Homo sapiens: one gene and its partners. The protein of the gene in region 3 interacts with the protein of the main gene of each other region in a pairwise test. Each region holds a gene or a part of one and is shown on either strand. Other genes may lie near its edges.

The links.
Region 1: the proteins of TOR1A (region 3) and ASIC4 interact in binary tests that used the Homo sapiens proteins (3 or more experiments, as listed by UniProt).
Region 2: the proteins of TOR1A (region 3) and SPATA12 interact in binary tests that used the Homo sapiens proteins (3 or more experiments, as listed by UniProt).
Region 4: the proteins of TOR1A (region 3) and ABHD17C interact in binary tests that used the Homo sapiens proteins (3 or more experiments, as listed by UniProt).

The regions. Positions count from the first base shown.
Region 1 is NC_000002.12:219,520,982-219,524,481, reverse strand, and holds part of ASIC4 (acid-sensing ion channel 4), read right to left. Parts: intron 1-3,500. UniProt on the Homo sapiens protein: Does not exhibit measurable stand-alone pH-gated sodium channel activity but may form pH-gated heterotrimeric sodium channels. Its activity could also depend on alternative gating mechanisms.
Region 2 is NC_000003.12:57,063,664-57,067,163, reverse strand, and holds part of SPATA12 (spermatogenesis-associated protein 12), read right to left. Parts: intron 1-3,500.
Region 3 is NC_000009.12:129,814,137-129,817,636, forward strand, and holds part of TOR1A (torsin-1A precursor), read right to left. Parts: intron 87-3,500; coding exon 1-86. UniProt on the Homo sapiens protein: Protein with chaperone functions important for the control of protein folding, processing, stability and localization as well as for the reduction of misfolded protein aggregates.
Region 4 is NC_000015.10:80,750,810-80,754,309, reverse strand, and holds part of ABHD17C (alpha/beta hydrolase domain-containing protein 17C), read right to left. Parts: intron 160-3,500; coding exon 1-159. UniProt on the Homo sapiens protein: Hydrolyzes fatty acids from S-acylated cysteine residues in proteins. Has depalmitoylating activity towards NRAS and DLG4/PSD95.

The DNA of each region.
Region 1 (3,500 bases), on a different chromosome or scaffold from region 3:
CACAAAACTCCTATATGGCAGTAGTCCTATCGTTTTCATTTTACAGACAGGGTAACGGAGGTACAGAGAGGATAAGGAAGCTGACAGGGGACCAGGCAGTCTGGCCCTGGAGTCCACCCATAGCCACTGTGTGACATACACTTGGCACACAGTACCTACAAATAGTAGGCGCTCAAGAACTGGTGAATGTTCAAACAACACTTACTTTGTCCAACACTATTCATTGAGCCTGTGCTCAACAGTGTCAGGCACTGTGTGCTTGGTGCTGGACATGCAACAGAGAACAAAACAGACAGCCTCTGCCCTCAAGGAGCTTGCTGTCTGGCTGCAGAGACATTCATTCATTCAAAGTACTTATGGGCTAGGCACGGTGGCTCACACTTGTAATCCCGGCACTTTAGGAGGCCAAGGTAGGAGGATCGATTGAGCCCAAGAATTTGAGACCAATCTAGGCAACATAGCGAGACCTCGTCTCTACAAATAATAATAAATTAGCCAGGCATGGTGGCTCACACATGTAGTCCCAGCTACTCAGGAGGCTGAGGTGGGAGGATCTCTTGAGTCTGGGAGGTTGAGGCTGCAGGGAGCCACCGTGATGGCACCACTGCACTCCAGCCTGGGCAACAGAGCGTGACCCTGTCTCAAAAAAAAAAAAAAGTGCTTATGGGGCACTTACAACATAAACACTTTGAACTGCACCAGGCATGTTCACAAATCCACCAGTCACACAAATGGATAAATTGTTACTAGTTGTGATCCTTGTAGTGATGGGGTGACCTAGCCAAGGTCACCACGGTGGAACAGGAGCTCAATTTGGCTTGCAGGGTCAGGAAAAACTTCTCTAAACAAGCCACCTGGCTCACCCAGGAGGGGCATCAGACAATGCCACACTCAAGAAAGAGGAAGACACAGCGCCCTCAGCAGGCTTAGTTCTACACGTGCATACAGGGACCCCCCACCTCCACCGCCACCCATGAGCTTTTCAGGGCCACTTCCTCCCTACAGTGGATCTAGGAGGCAATGGCTGAGGTGTTTGTTCAAATGTAAATGTGTGAGCTGTGGTGGAAGGGACAGGGGAGCCCTAGGAGCCAGGGAGGGCTGGGGGCCGTGGAAGAAGGCTGTGGTCCCCGGCGGGCGCCGCGCTTCCACGGGAGAGGAGAACGGGAGGATGAAGGCCTCCGGGACCCAGGTAAACGGTCAAAACCATTCCCCAGGCAGCGACCGCTTAGGCCTTACACCCTAGAAAGTCAGTTTTTAATTGGTGAATTGGTAAGTAAGTCCTTCCCTGACATTCCCGCCCCTCGATGCAAAGTTCCTCGTCAAGAGTTTTGCTTATACAGTGGAGCACACTCCCACAGCCAGGCGGGAGTTCAGGAGACAAGACAGAAAGAGGCGGCGGGGACGGTGGGTGGGTGGGTGTGCGCCTGCCAGGATCCCTGGCCCCCCGCCCTCTCCCGCACACACAGCCTGGCCGCCCAGGCCTGGCCCACCCGCACCCAGAGGGCCGCACCCACCGGCTCGCGCGCCTCGCCGCCCTCCGCTCCCTCCCGCGGGCCAGGCATCCATCACGGCTCCCGAGCGCCCTCCCTCCCATCTCCTGCGGGCTCCTCCGCTCTCCTCCCTGGGTCTGCCTCATTTGCATTCCCCCGGCTCCCGGCTCCTCGGCAAAGTGACCTCCGCACACAGCAGCGCCAGAGGCTTCCACCGCGGAGGGAAACACCGCCGCCCGCCCCCGCGGCGGCCGGGGAGGGGGCGACGGGGGCGGGGGTCCCGAGGAGATGGATGCGGAGCTGGGCCTGGCTGGCGGGCCTGAAGCGGCCAAAAGGCCCGGGGCCGGGGGCACTGAGGGACTTGGGTGCTCGGGTGGGATTTGAACCCGCGACCTCAGATCCCCAGCCAGGCGGGAGTGAGACATGATCAGCACGAGGCCCGGGAGGCTGCGACCAGAAACGGAACCCCTACTGGGAACCTGGGGCTCCCCAACGTCCCGTTTCCTTCCCCCGTGAGCCCCCACTGGGGAGGGGCCGACCCCACCGGGCAGTCGCCCAGGGGTTCCCAGCCCTCCCCGGGGACCTGCCCAGCCCCCACCCCACCCTCCGGGCCCGCCGAGCCGCCTCCCCTCCCCCCGTTTGGTATTTACACCTTCCACACATTTGTAAGCTATTATCCTGTCCACGCTTAGTCACCGCTGAGCCAAGCGCCACGGATTTAGCTCCTTTAATCTTTCCTCCTAAATCAATCCTCCATTTCCCCTTAATCATCCCGTGGCTCCTCTCTGAACTCTTGCTGCCGCCTCGGCTGCTGCAGCCCGTGCCTATCTCTCTGGAACTGCTCCCCCTCCAACCCAACACCCACGGGTGTCCCAAGGGCATGGTGAGCATTTGAGGGGTGGGTTGGATTTCCAGCGCTGCCAGCCCCAGCCTAGGAGCCAGGGGAAGAAGTGCAGACCCCTGCCCACCTCTTCCTAGAAAACACACCACTGAACCTTCCCATCTCCACTCTCAGGATCTCTGCCCCTCTGTCCTCCTCCTGCCTTCCCATCCTCACTCATCCTTCTGAAGACCCTAAGTTTCCACCATGATTTGCAAAAAAATTAAAAAACAAACAAACGTGGCAGATCTTCTCCCCTCGGGCCTCCTGCCCCCAGTGCTGGCCGTTCCCACCTCCTCTTCCCAGCTGCTCAAAGGAGGTGGGCTGCAGGGCCAGCCTGGAAGGGCAAGGAATACTTATAACTCAGGAATACTTATAACTTATAACTCAGAGGCAGCCTGAGGCCGGCCTCTGTCCCCTCCTGCAGGGTGGCTGTCCATCTCTCCTGGACCACCTCAGGCTCCACCCCCTTCACTCCCTCCTGCCTGCCCATGGGACCCACTGACGACTCGGGGACTGAGTAGCTTGGGTCTTGGCATTCCAATGCTCCCTGTAGTGCTTCCTGGGTGCCCCTGCCTCTCCATTCCTGATCCTTCCTGCCCCCTGCCTGGACCTAGCAGAGGCAGCCCTGCCGCCAGCCACAAGAGGGAGCAGATTCCTCCCAAGAAGCAGAAGGGCAGGGGTGGGGGTCCAGGAAGGAGTGCGGGCAGGGGAGACAGAGGGAGGATCAGAGGGGGACAGGACGTGGGGCCATTTCTTCAAACGCTAATCAGCATCTTCCGGCAGTGTCTGAGAAGCTGAGCTGATAATGAGCCCAGCTCGGGGCTGATTCCTGATTAATGAAGAGGCCACGGGGCTGCTGAGTGGGGCTGGGTGGGGCATGTCCCTCATGGCCCTCCCACTGCCCTTGAAGACCAGCCCTCTGAGACAGTAACAGTCACTGCCCTTCCCTGCCAGGCCACACCACTTACATCCCCTCCACCCACTCCACTGCCCAAGCAGGCAGGCTGACAGCACCCCTCCAGGAGGGTCTGAGCCGCAGCTGGTGTGGGGTGGAAGGTGGGGAGGGTGGGTGCACCTGGTTCTGCAATCTGAGGGGTTGGCAGCCCTCAGTATTTTTTAAATCAGTT
Region 2 (3,500 bases), on a different chromosome or scaffold from region 3:
TGTTATTCTTTCTGGGTTGCCATATTTTGTGGTTTTTAAAAAATATATTTTTATTCATTTATCTGGTGACTTGAAATTTCATGCAAGTACAGGTCCTTACAGACAATTTCTATTGGAAAATCACTTATTTTGGGTGTGTATTAGGGTTTGGAGAGAAACAGAACCAACAGGATGTGTGTCAATCAATCGCTCATCTATCTATTGAGAGGTTGATTTTTAGGAATTGGCTCATGTGATTGTGGAGGCCAGGTGAGTCAAAAATCAGCAAGGTAGACTGGCAGGCCGGAGACCCAGGGAAGAGTTGCAGTGAGCCCAAAGGCTCTCTGGGTAGAATTCTTCCTGCTCTGGGAGGTCGGTCTTTTTCTATTAAGGCTTATAGCTGATTGGATAAAGCCCACCACATCATGGAGAATAATCTGCTTTACTCTAAGTCCACTGATTTAAATGTTAATCTCATCTAAAAAATACCTTCACAGAAATGTCTAGAATGTTTGACCAAATAGCTGGTTACCATGGTCTAGCCAAGTTGACACATAAAATTAATCATCACAGTGGGTAAAATACTGTTTGAGGTTGTTCAGAAGAAAGGAAAAAGGCAAAAGCCTGGGCGCGGTGGCTCACGCCAATAGTCCCAGCACTTTGGGAGGCCGAGGCGGATGGATCACTTGAGGTCAGGAGTTCAAGACCAGCCTAGCCAACATGGTGAAACCCCGTCTCTACTAAAAATACAAAAATTAAGCCAGGCATGGTGGCGGGTGCCTGCAATCCCAGCTACTTGGGAGGCTGAGGCAGGTGAATCGCTTGAACCTGGGAGGCGGAGGTTGCGGTGAGCCAAGATCATGCCACTGTACCTGGGTGACAGAGTCAGACTCTGTTTCAGAAAAAAAAAAAAAGAAAGAAAGGAAAAGTGTAATGGTTGGAAGTGGAAGTGTGCTGTTGGTACAGATAGGAGAACATTTCGGAAAGAATTCCCTCCCCTTTGATTGACTGCAAAATAAGTCCCTCCCTTGTTCTCTTGCAATTACAGGTGGACCAGATGGGTGGGCAGATTGGCAGTGGGGGTGCAGAGTTTCTTGTTCTGATTGAAAGGATTTTTTCTTACATTTTAGGGTTTTTTTTTTTTGTTTTGGAGACAGAGTCTCACTGTGTTGCCCTCCTGGCCTCAAGTGATCCTCCTGCCTCAGCCTCCTGAGTAGCTGGGATTACAGATGTGAATTACTGTGCCCAGCTCTTAGATTTCATTTTAAGACTGAAGACCTGAGAGTTCATGGGCCTAAGTAAAAGGTGCCATTTATCTGCAACAAATTGGTGCATGCTCCGTAGATCTAGCTGTAGGGGGCTGTGTGTGCTAATGCAGCATTTGTGACTCAGCCGTAATGAGGATGACCTTGCCTCTCCTGTTCCGCAGGCTACCACCTAGCTGTGGTGGGTCACTGGCCACAGAAACTGTAGGTATCTGGGGCTGCCTGGGTGGGAACTCAGCCTGTATGAGAACATGGTATTTGGAAGACATTAAACATTTATTATAGCTTTTATTTTTATTGAGGTATAATTAACATACCACAAAATTGACCCTTTTCAAGTACCCAGTCTGTTTTTTAGCACATGCATACGGTAGTGCAGATATCACCACTAGTTCCAGAATATTTATCATCCTAAAATACAGTTTTTCTTTTGCAAGTAATTTCTTTTTTTTTTGTTTTGTGATGGAGTCCTGCTCTGTTGCCCAGGCTGGAGTGCAGTGACATAATCTCAGCTTACTGCAACCTCTGCCTCCTGGGCTCAAGTGATTCTCCTGCCTCATCCTCCTTAGTAGCTGGGACTACAGGTGCACACCATCACACCCGGCTAATTTTGTATTTTTCGTAGAGATAGGGTTTCACCATGTTGGCCAGGCTGGTGTCGAACTCCTGACCTCAAGTTATCTGCCCGCCTCGGCCTCCCGAAGTGCTGGGATTACAGGCGTGAGGCGTGAGCCACTGCGCCCGGCCTTTTGCAAGTAATTTCAACATTTAAGACCATGGCCTACTGGATTGGTCCCATCAGCAAATAAACATGCAGTTATTTCTCCCAACTTAAAAACAGCAGAACCCTCTCTCCACCCTACTTCTCCCTACAGTTATACACCCATTTCTCTTCAGTTTAGAGCAAAACTTTTTGAAATAATTTTCTGGACTTACTAATTTTTTGCCTTCTATTGTGTCTCAAAAAATTGTGATAAAACACACATAACGTAAAATTTACTGTGTTGACTATTTTTAAGTTTTCAGGTCAGTAGTGTTGCGTATACTGATATTATTGTGCAACCAATCTGCAGAGCTTTTCATCTTGTGACACTGAAACACTGTATCCATTAAACAGCAACTCCCATTCCCCCCTGCCCCTAGTCCCTGGAGACCAGCATTCTACTTTCTGTCTCTGAATTTGACTGTTCTAGATACCTCATATAAGTGGAATCATGCCATATTTGTCCTTTTGTGACTGGCTTATTTCACTCAGCATAATGTGCTCAAGGTTCACCCATGTTGTAACATGTGTCAGAATTTCCTTCCTTTGGGCTGGGTATGGTGGCTCATGCCTGTAATCCCAGCACCGAGGAGGCGGATGTTGAGCCCAGGGGTTCAAAACCAGCCTTGGCAACATGGTGATACCCTGTCTACAAAAAATACAGCAATTTGCTGGGCGTGGTGGCATGCACCTGTAATCTCAGCTACTTGGGGGCTGAGATGGGAGGATCACTTGAGTCAGGGAAGTTGAGGCTGCAGTGAGCCGTGATCTTGCCGCTGCATCCCAGCCTGGATAACAGAGGGAAACCCTGTCTCCAAAAAAAGAAAAAAAAAGAAAGAAAAAAAAAAGAAAGAATTTCCTTCTTGGTTTTTGGTTTTCTGTTTTGTTTTTTGAGACGGGGCCTCACTCTGTCACTGATTGCTGCAGTGGCACAATCTCAGCTCACTGCAACCTCTACCCCCCAGGCTCAAGCAATCCTCTGACCTCAGCTTCCGGGTTAGCTGGGACTACAGGCATGCACCACTATGCCCAATTAATTTTTTTGTATTTTTGGTAGAGACAGGGTTTTGCCATGTTGCCCAGGCTGGTCTCGAGCCCCTGAGCTCAGGCAGTCCCCCTCCCTGGGCCTCCCAAAGTGCTGGGATTACAGGCGTGAGCCAGCACAGCTGGCATGGAATTTCCCTCCTTTTTAAGGCAGAATATTATTCAATTCTATGCATTTGCCACATTTTGTTCTACCATTCATCTGTCATGGACACTGAGTTGCTTCCACCTTTTGTCTATTGTGAATGATGCTGCTATCCCATTCTCTTTTGAGCCCCTCATTTCAGGCAGGCTTGGCTTCCACTCCCCTCTCCCCAGATATCTCTTACCAAGGTCTACAGTGAGTGCCTGGTTGCTCATCCCAATGGCCTGTTCTCTGTTGCCATCCTTCCTGACTACCAGCAGCGTGTGATGGAGTTGGTCACTTTCTCTTCCTCGAAGCCTTGTCT
Region 3 (3,500 bases):
TTTTAGGTGTTTGTATTCCAGGGGGAGGAAGGGAACAAAATAATCAATGAGGTTCCGGTCAATTAAGCTGCTGTGCCAGAAGCCACCTGGGAAGAAGAAACAAGGTGCTGTTCATCCACATCCACCCACCTGCCCTATAGACGCCTCCTGGGGGTCACTTACCTACCCTCCCATCCGTCCCACAAACGTCTACTGGGGGTCACCTATCCATGCCACACACACCTACTGGGGGTCACCCACCCACCCCCCCCACATCTACTAGGGGTCACCCACCCTCCCATCCATCCCATACACACCTACTGGGTGTCATCCACCCTCCTATCCATCCCATACACATCTACTGGGTGTCATCCACCCTCCTATCCATCCCACACATACCTACTGGGTGTGCCCTCTCCCTTGTGGAGCTCCAGATCAGTGGGGAAGGCAGATGTTAACAGGCACCTGCACATTGTAATGCTTCTGTGACAGCAGAAGCTGTGACAGCCCTCTTTACACGGCGGGCTGGGGGAGGCCTCCCAAGGTATGACTTAAGAGATCGAAGATGGGAAAGAGGTCCTGGGGCCCAGGAACAAGCAGAGAGGCAGAGTGGGGAAGGCAGAGTTCCACAGAAAGCGGGAAGCAAGAAGAATTCCCGGGAAGGACTACCAGCCACGCCTCTGTATTTGGGAACTTTTTGACTCTCCCTGGAGTTTCAGCAGCTGGACTAGCAACAGGGAAGCCTGCTGCCGCTGCCACAGTGCCCAGACCCTGCAGAGCATGTGGGCACCAAAACTAGCCTGGAGAGTGCAGATGTGCAGCCCACGCTGGGCTCCCCGTGAAGGCCTGGCCTTGGCCGTGTTTTCTCCCCTGAATGCGGGCTGGCTCTGCACTGACCCGTCCACTCCTCCTGGGCTCCTGGAACTCCTGACCCAGGACACTTCCTCCCAGCCCCAGATGACACAGCACACACTGCGTCGCCCACGAGCCCATGCGTGTCTTCTACTGAGCTGATTCCCTTCTGGTCTGCCATGTAATTCTGGGGCTCCGTCCCCAACCCAAGCTCCTCCTCATTCACTGGGTTAATGCTTTTCATGCCCAACAGTGCTTTGCACACAACTGGTACTCAATAAATGTGTGGCTGACTGACAGAGTGGAGCCTATGGCCAGGGAAAGAACAGAACCAACCACTGAATGGGAACGAGGGGCTGTCTTGCTATCATGAACTCACGTGGGAGGCTGGTTCTCAGAGGCCTGCTCTGTGCCAGGCACGCCCTGGGCCTGGGGACACAGCTGAGGGCAGACGGACCTCACGGCTTTACCACTCTAGGGCAGGAAACAATCTCAGATGGTGCTTGGAGTGGCGAATGCCACACAGCAGAACGGACATGGAGAGCGGGAGGTGGAGCAGGCTGGGCAGGACCTCAGGGCAGAGCCCGAGCAACAAGGACCCAGCCACGCAGACCCAGGAGTGACGGCAGAACAGGTGACCTCAGGCAGCCCTGAGACTTCACAGTCATCTCCTGAGGACTCCCAAGTTTGCCCTCCTGGCCTGATGGCCTCCCTGGAGCTTCGTGGCTCTGCTCTGATGCCCTGATGCCATTGCCCACTGAGCTCGCCCGTCCTTCCTGCTGTCCCTTCCCTTCAATGGCAGTGCCACCCTTCCCATCGCTCAAGCCAGGTCCTTGATTCTTCTCTCATTCCCATATACAATTCTGCAGGAAGTCTTACAGGTTCTACCTTCAAAACACACCCAGAAGCCAACCGTGTCCCTCCACCCCCACCGCTTCCACGCTGGGCTCCCTGCCCCTGTGGCTGTGGGTCTGTCCTCCATCCAGTTGCCAGCAAGGTCCTGTGAAGGCCCCGTCAGATCACAGCACCACCTGCCCAGGACCCTCCAGGCCTCTCTCTTCCACTTGGAATAAGACTCAAGGTTCACCATGGCCCGCCAGGCTTCCCACGGTCTGCACCTCCACCCCAAATCTCGCCTCTTCTATCACCTCCCGTTTCCCTCCTCTGTTTATCCTCAACCAGTCACAGGGACCCCAAGCACAGGCCCCCCTCGGGCCCCTGGACGTGCTGTCCGCACTGGGGAATGCTTTTCCCTCAGACATCCACATGGCTCACTCCCCCGGGTCAGCCCAAATGCCACCCTCACAGGGAGCCTTCCCTGTCCACTCTATTAAAGCAGAGCCCATCCTTACCCTGAACCCCAAAGCCTTTCTTGATTTTTTTCCCCTACTGGCCCCGGGGGGAAAGATATCTATATGTCCACATGTGTACATGTGCGATGTGTGCATATGTACTGCATGTATACACACAAACACATCACACACATCAACATATCTATCCCCCATCATCTGATACATTTTCTTTCTTTATTATCACTAGGATGTAGGATTGATAAGGGCAAGAATTTCTGTGTTTGTTCACTGCTGTGTCCCCCGTCCTAGGTATGATGCCTGGCACTTACCAGATGCTCCATATACATGTGCTGAATCAATGTTCAGCCATCTGCCTGAGGTCACAGTCAGTCTGTGGGCCAGGGCTGCCCGACTCCCAGGTTGGCACTCCTAAGCACCGTGTAACCTCCACAGCGTGGATTCTAGGCCACGGGGCTCATCTGCCTCAGCATTAGGCTAAAGTTTCCACTGCATGTGCTCATGTTTTTTGGCAAGGCAAGAAACTATCCAACATGTTACAAAATACTTGTCTTTCCTCAGTAGTATTCCACTTGCACACACTGACATACTGTACCCCATGCTGTTCACTAACTGTAGGATTAATTTCTTGGCAAGTCTGTTTCAAATGAGCCCTTCTGTTTTGTCATCTCCAGAACCTGAAGCGCAAAGACTTGAACAGCCAGCCCTGCACAACTCACAGGTCTTAGCCAGTGAGTCAGCCTCCATCAGGCTGGCTTTCCACCTCCCCAGGTTCAAGGTCAAAGGTCTCATGACATTTGGAGAAGTAGTGAGCTAAAACTTAAAAGCTCAGGTTTTAGAATCAGAGATACCGAACAGGCTGCATGGCCCTGGGCAAGCTGCCACATCTCTGAGTCTCAGTCTCTACCCTGCGAGGTATGGTGAAGACTGAGTGAAATCCGCAGGCAGGCTGTTTCACACGGTGCCCAGTACAAAATAAGGGCCGAACCGCTATTTGGCTGTTGCTCTTGGGCAATGCAGAGAAAGGGAGGAACTAACAGGTCATCTCTCCCCCTGAGCTGCCCACGGCATCCTTCCTTGCTCAACCACTGGCTCTTTCTTCTACAAAGAAAATCATGTAGCTGAAGAAAATGGGGGAACTGGCCAGGCGTGGTGGCTCACGCCTGTAATCCCAGCACTTTGGGAGGCCGAGGCAGGCGGATCACGAGGTCAGGAGATAAGACCATCCTGGCTAACATGGTGAAACCCCGTTTCTACTAAAAATACAAAAAATTTGCCGAGTGTGGTGGCAGGTGCCTGTAGTCCCAGCTACTCGGCAGGCTGAGGCAGGAGAATGGTGTGAACCTGGGAGGCAGAGCT
Region 4 (3,500 bases), on a different chromosome or scaffold from region 3:
AGCTCTATGTCATTATGCCCAGCCCCTTCAACCCAAAGGGGCTCCACGGCTCGGGGACAGCGCTCGTACATCGCTAGGCCATGGGAGAAATCGATGACCTCATCCTCTGTACCATGAATGACCAACACAGGAGAGGTGACTTTAGATATCTTGTCAATGCTGCAAAACAGAAAGGGGGGAGGCAGAAAGAGGACTCCATTAGTTATGCTCACAGATAATACACATCACATTTAATGATAAGTTAATAATCTCCACAGGCAGGGAAATAACACCGTGGGTTTTTTTTGTTTGTTTTGTTTTGTTTTTAAATTAAGGACTTTATCTTTTAAAGCAGTTTTAGGTTCACAGCATAACTGAGAGGAAGGTACAGAGATTTCCCAGATACCTCCTTGTCCCCACACATGCACAGTCTCCCCAATTATCAATATCCCCTACCACAGCAGTACCTTTGATGAACCTACATTAACATATCATAACAGTTTGGCTTTTTCTTGCTTTATTTTTTTCTGGTAATTTAGTTTTTTTTCTTAAATCAACTTTGCATTTTAGAATAATTTTGAATTTGCAGGAAAGGTGTAAAGATAATACAGTGTATACAAAAATCAGCCAGGCATGGTGGTGCATGCCTGTAATCTCAGCTACTCGGAAGACCGAGGCAGGAGAATTGCTTGAACTAGGAGTGGGAGGTTGCAGTGAGCTGAGATCGTGCCACTGCACTCCAGCCTGGGCAACAGAGTGAGACTCTGTCTCAAGAAAAAAAAGAAAAGAAAAGAAAACAAAACAAAAAGATAATACAGTGCCCTGACATACTCCTGACCCATTTCCTGTAAGGTTAACATTGTACATTACCGTGATACATCTGTCAAAACTAAAACACCAACGTTGGTGCATTACTATGAACTAAACTCCAGACTTTATTTGGATTTCACTAGTTTTTCCACTAATGTCCTTTTCCTGTTCCAGGATCCAAACAAGAATACCACACTGCAATTGGCTGTTGTGTTTGTTGAAGTATTTTATTAAAGACAGACCTCTTCAGAGCATCAGACTAGCAAACTAGCAACTACTATTTTTTATATATTATCTTTATATTACTTTTAGATTTTTTTATATTTATATATTATTTTTCAAGAGAATTTTAAAAAGGGCCAGAACTTAACATATCAAATGAATGTCTATTTGGAAAGCTGGACACTTAATTTGCTGCCACTCAAGTCTTCAGAATTCTGAAAGCTACCATCAGAATTGACTCAAAGATACACACCCCATTTCATAAAAGCAAGTGCCTTGTTTTAAAAAATAAAAACTGTACTATTTAGCTTGAAAACTTAATGTAATGCCTAGATTTTATTCCAAATGACTTCTCTGCAAAAATCAAATCTACTCTCAAAGGATGAATATTTGAGGATCTTTAAAACAATATGCTTCAGGCTCTGAAAGCATATCCAAAAGAGGAATCCAAAAGACTTTAAGCATTGGTTGAGCTGGGTGTGTAGGCGACTTCTCTGATCGGGATAACAGTCATTTCATCCACAAATAAATCAAGAGAAATGGCTCTCTCTCCATTCTGTCCTGCCAAAGAGCCTCTTGTAGTTTACTTCTCTTTCCATATTTGATCCTAGTCGAAGTTACAAAAGGATACCAATTAGTACTATTTGTGGGAATCTTTTTGTTAAAAGTAACAGCTAACATTTTTTAAACATTTACCATAGCCGGGTGCTTTGCACTTAACCCACAAAATCTCTTTTAATATTTAATGAAACACAGTGAGAGAGGAATGACCACCTCTGTTTTATCAAGGAGGAAACTGAAGCTCAGAGAGATTATTAAATAACAGGAATGAGGTCGTGGAGATAATAAAGAGCTCTAACATCAATTACACATTCCAAAGATCTACAAACAACTGTCATCTAGCCTTTATTAAAAACTCAGGAAGCCGCGGACCACTTCAAGACATCCCAGAAAGATTGCAAAACCTCATCAGCCATGTAATTTGCAAACATCAGAGCCACTGTGGCAGTATTCAATTATGCACTTTAGAAATCTTATTTGGAAACCTGCTTTCCCCCTATATTTAATTTTAAAGTGACTTCCTTTAAGAGAGTTCAATTATACACAATTAAAAAGATATTTACTCAACAGTTACAATGGGCCTGGGACTATGCTCCACGCTGCACAGTTTAGGAGAATCTCTACTGCCTGGAGGGTGTATTTAAAGTTGACTTCCATCATCCGATCCCAAGTGTAAAGGAGGTAAAAGAAAATAAACTATAAATGAAATAATAATCTGGATTCCTTTTCCTTTTGTTTAAATTTGTTTTAATATTAAAAGGAAATGTGCAAGTATCCTCCTTTAAGGAGAGGGACACAGATGATTCTGCCATCTGGCAACAACGGACATATTAAGAAAATGTTTACCAAATTCAAATTCATGATGAAAGTCAATGCAACCATTAATGGTTTGAAATCTATCATATTAATAATTTATGGCATTAAATATGAGGATTTGTCTCCTTTGTTGTCTCCAATCACCAGCCTTTTAAAAAATTTTTTTAAGAGACAGGGTCTTGCTCTGTTGCCCAAGCTGGAGTGCAATAGTGTAATCCTAGCTCACTGCCACCTCAAAGAGATAAAGCTGGGCTTAAGGAATCTTCCCACCCCAGCCTCCTGAGGAGCTGGGACTACAGATGTGTACCACTATGGCTGGCTAACTTGTTAATCTTTTTCTGTAGTGACAGGATCTTGCTGTGGTGTTGCCCAGGTTGGTCTTGTACTCCTGGCCTCAAGTGATACTCCAGCCTTGGCCTCAAAAAGTGCTGGCATTACAGGTGTAAGCCACTGTGCCTGTCCTCTAATTACCGACCTTAATTCAATAAATTACTTAACCTCTCATTTCCTCATCTGTAAAATGAGCACAGTAATTGAACAAACATCTTTTTTTTTTCCTTTGGAGACAGAATCTTGCTCTGTCACCTAGGCTGGAGTGAAGTGGTGCGATCTCGGCTCACTGCAACCTCCGCCTCCTGGGTTCAAGCAATTCTTATGCCTCAGCCTCCCCAGTAGCTGGGATTACAGGTGTGCACCACCACGCTCGTCTAATTATTTTTTTTTTTTGTATTTTTAGTAGAGACGGGGTTTCACCATGTTACCCAGGCTGGTTTTGAACTCCTGAATTCTGGCAATCCACCCTCCTTGGCCTCCCAAAGTACTGGGATTACAGGCGTGAGCAATCACGCCCAGCTGACAAACTTCATAAGACTCTTGTAAAGATGAAGGGGGACCATGAACATGAAATGCATAGCCCGATACCTGCCATACCAGATAAACTCAGATAAGATTAGTTGCTAATTTGTTGTTAATCATTTGCAATTTGTTGAGATGGCTGTATTTTAAGGTATATGCTAATTTAAGAGCCAGGAAAAAAAAAAAACTATTAGTTTTGTTGCCAGGGTAACTCCCCGCATTGCTTCCCACAAACATGCTAAGTATCCGTCTTTCAG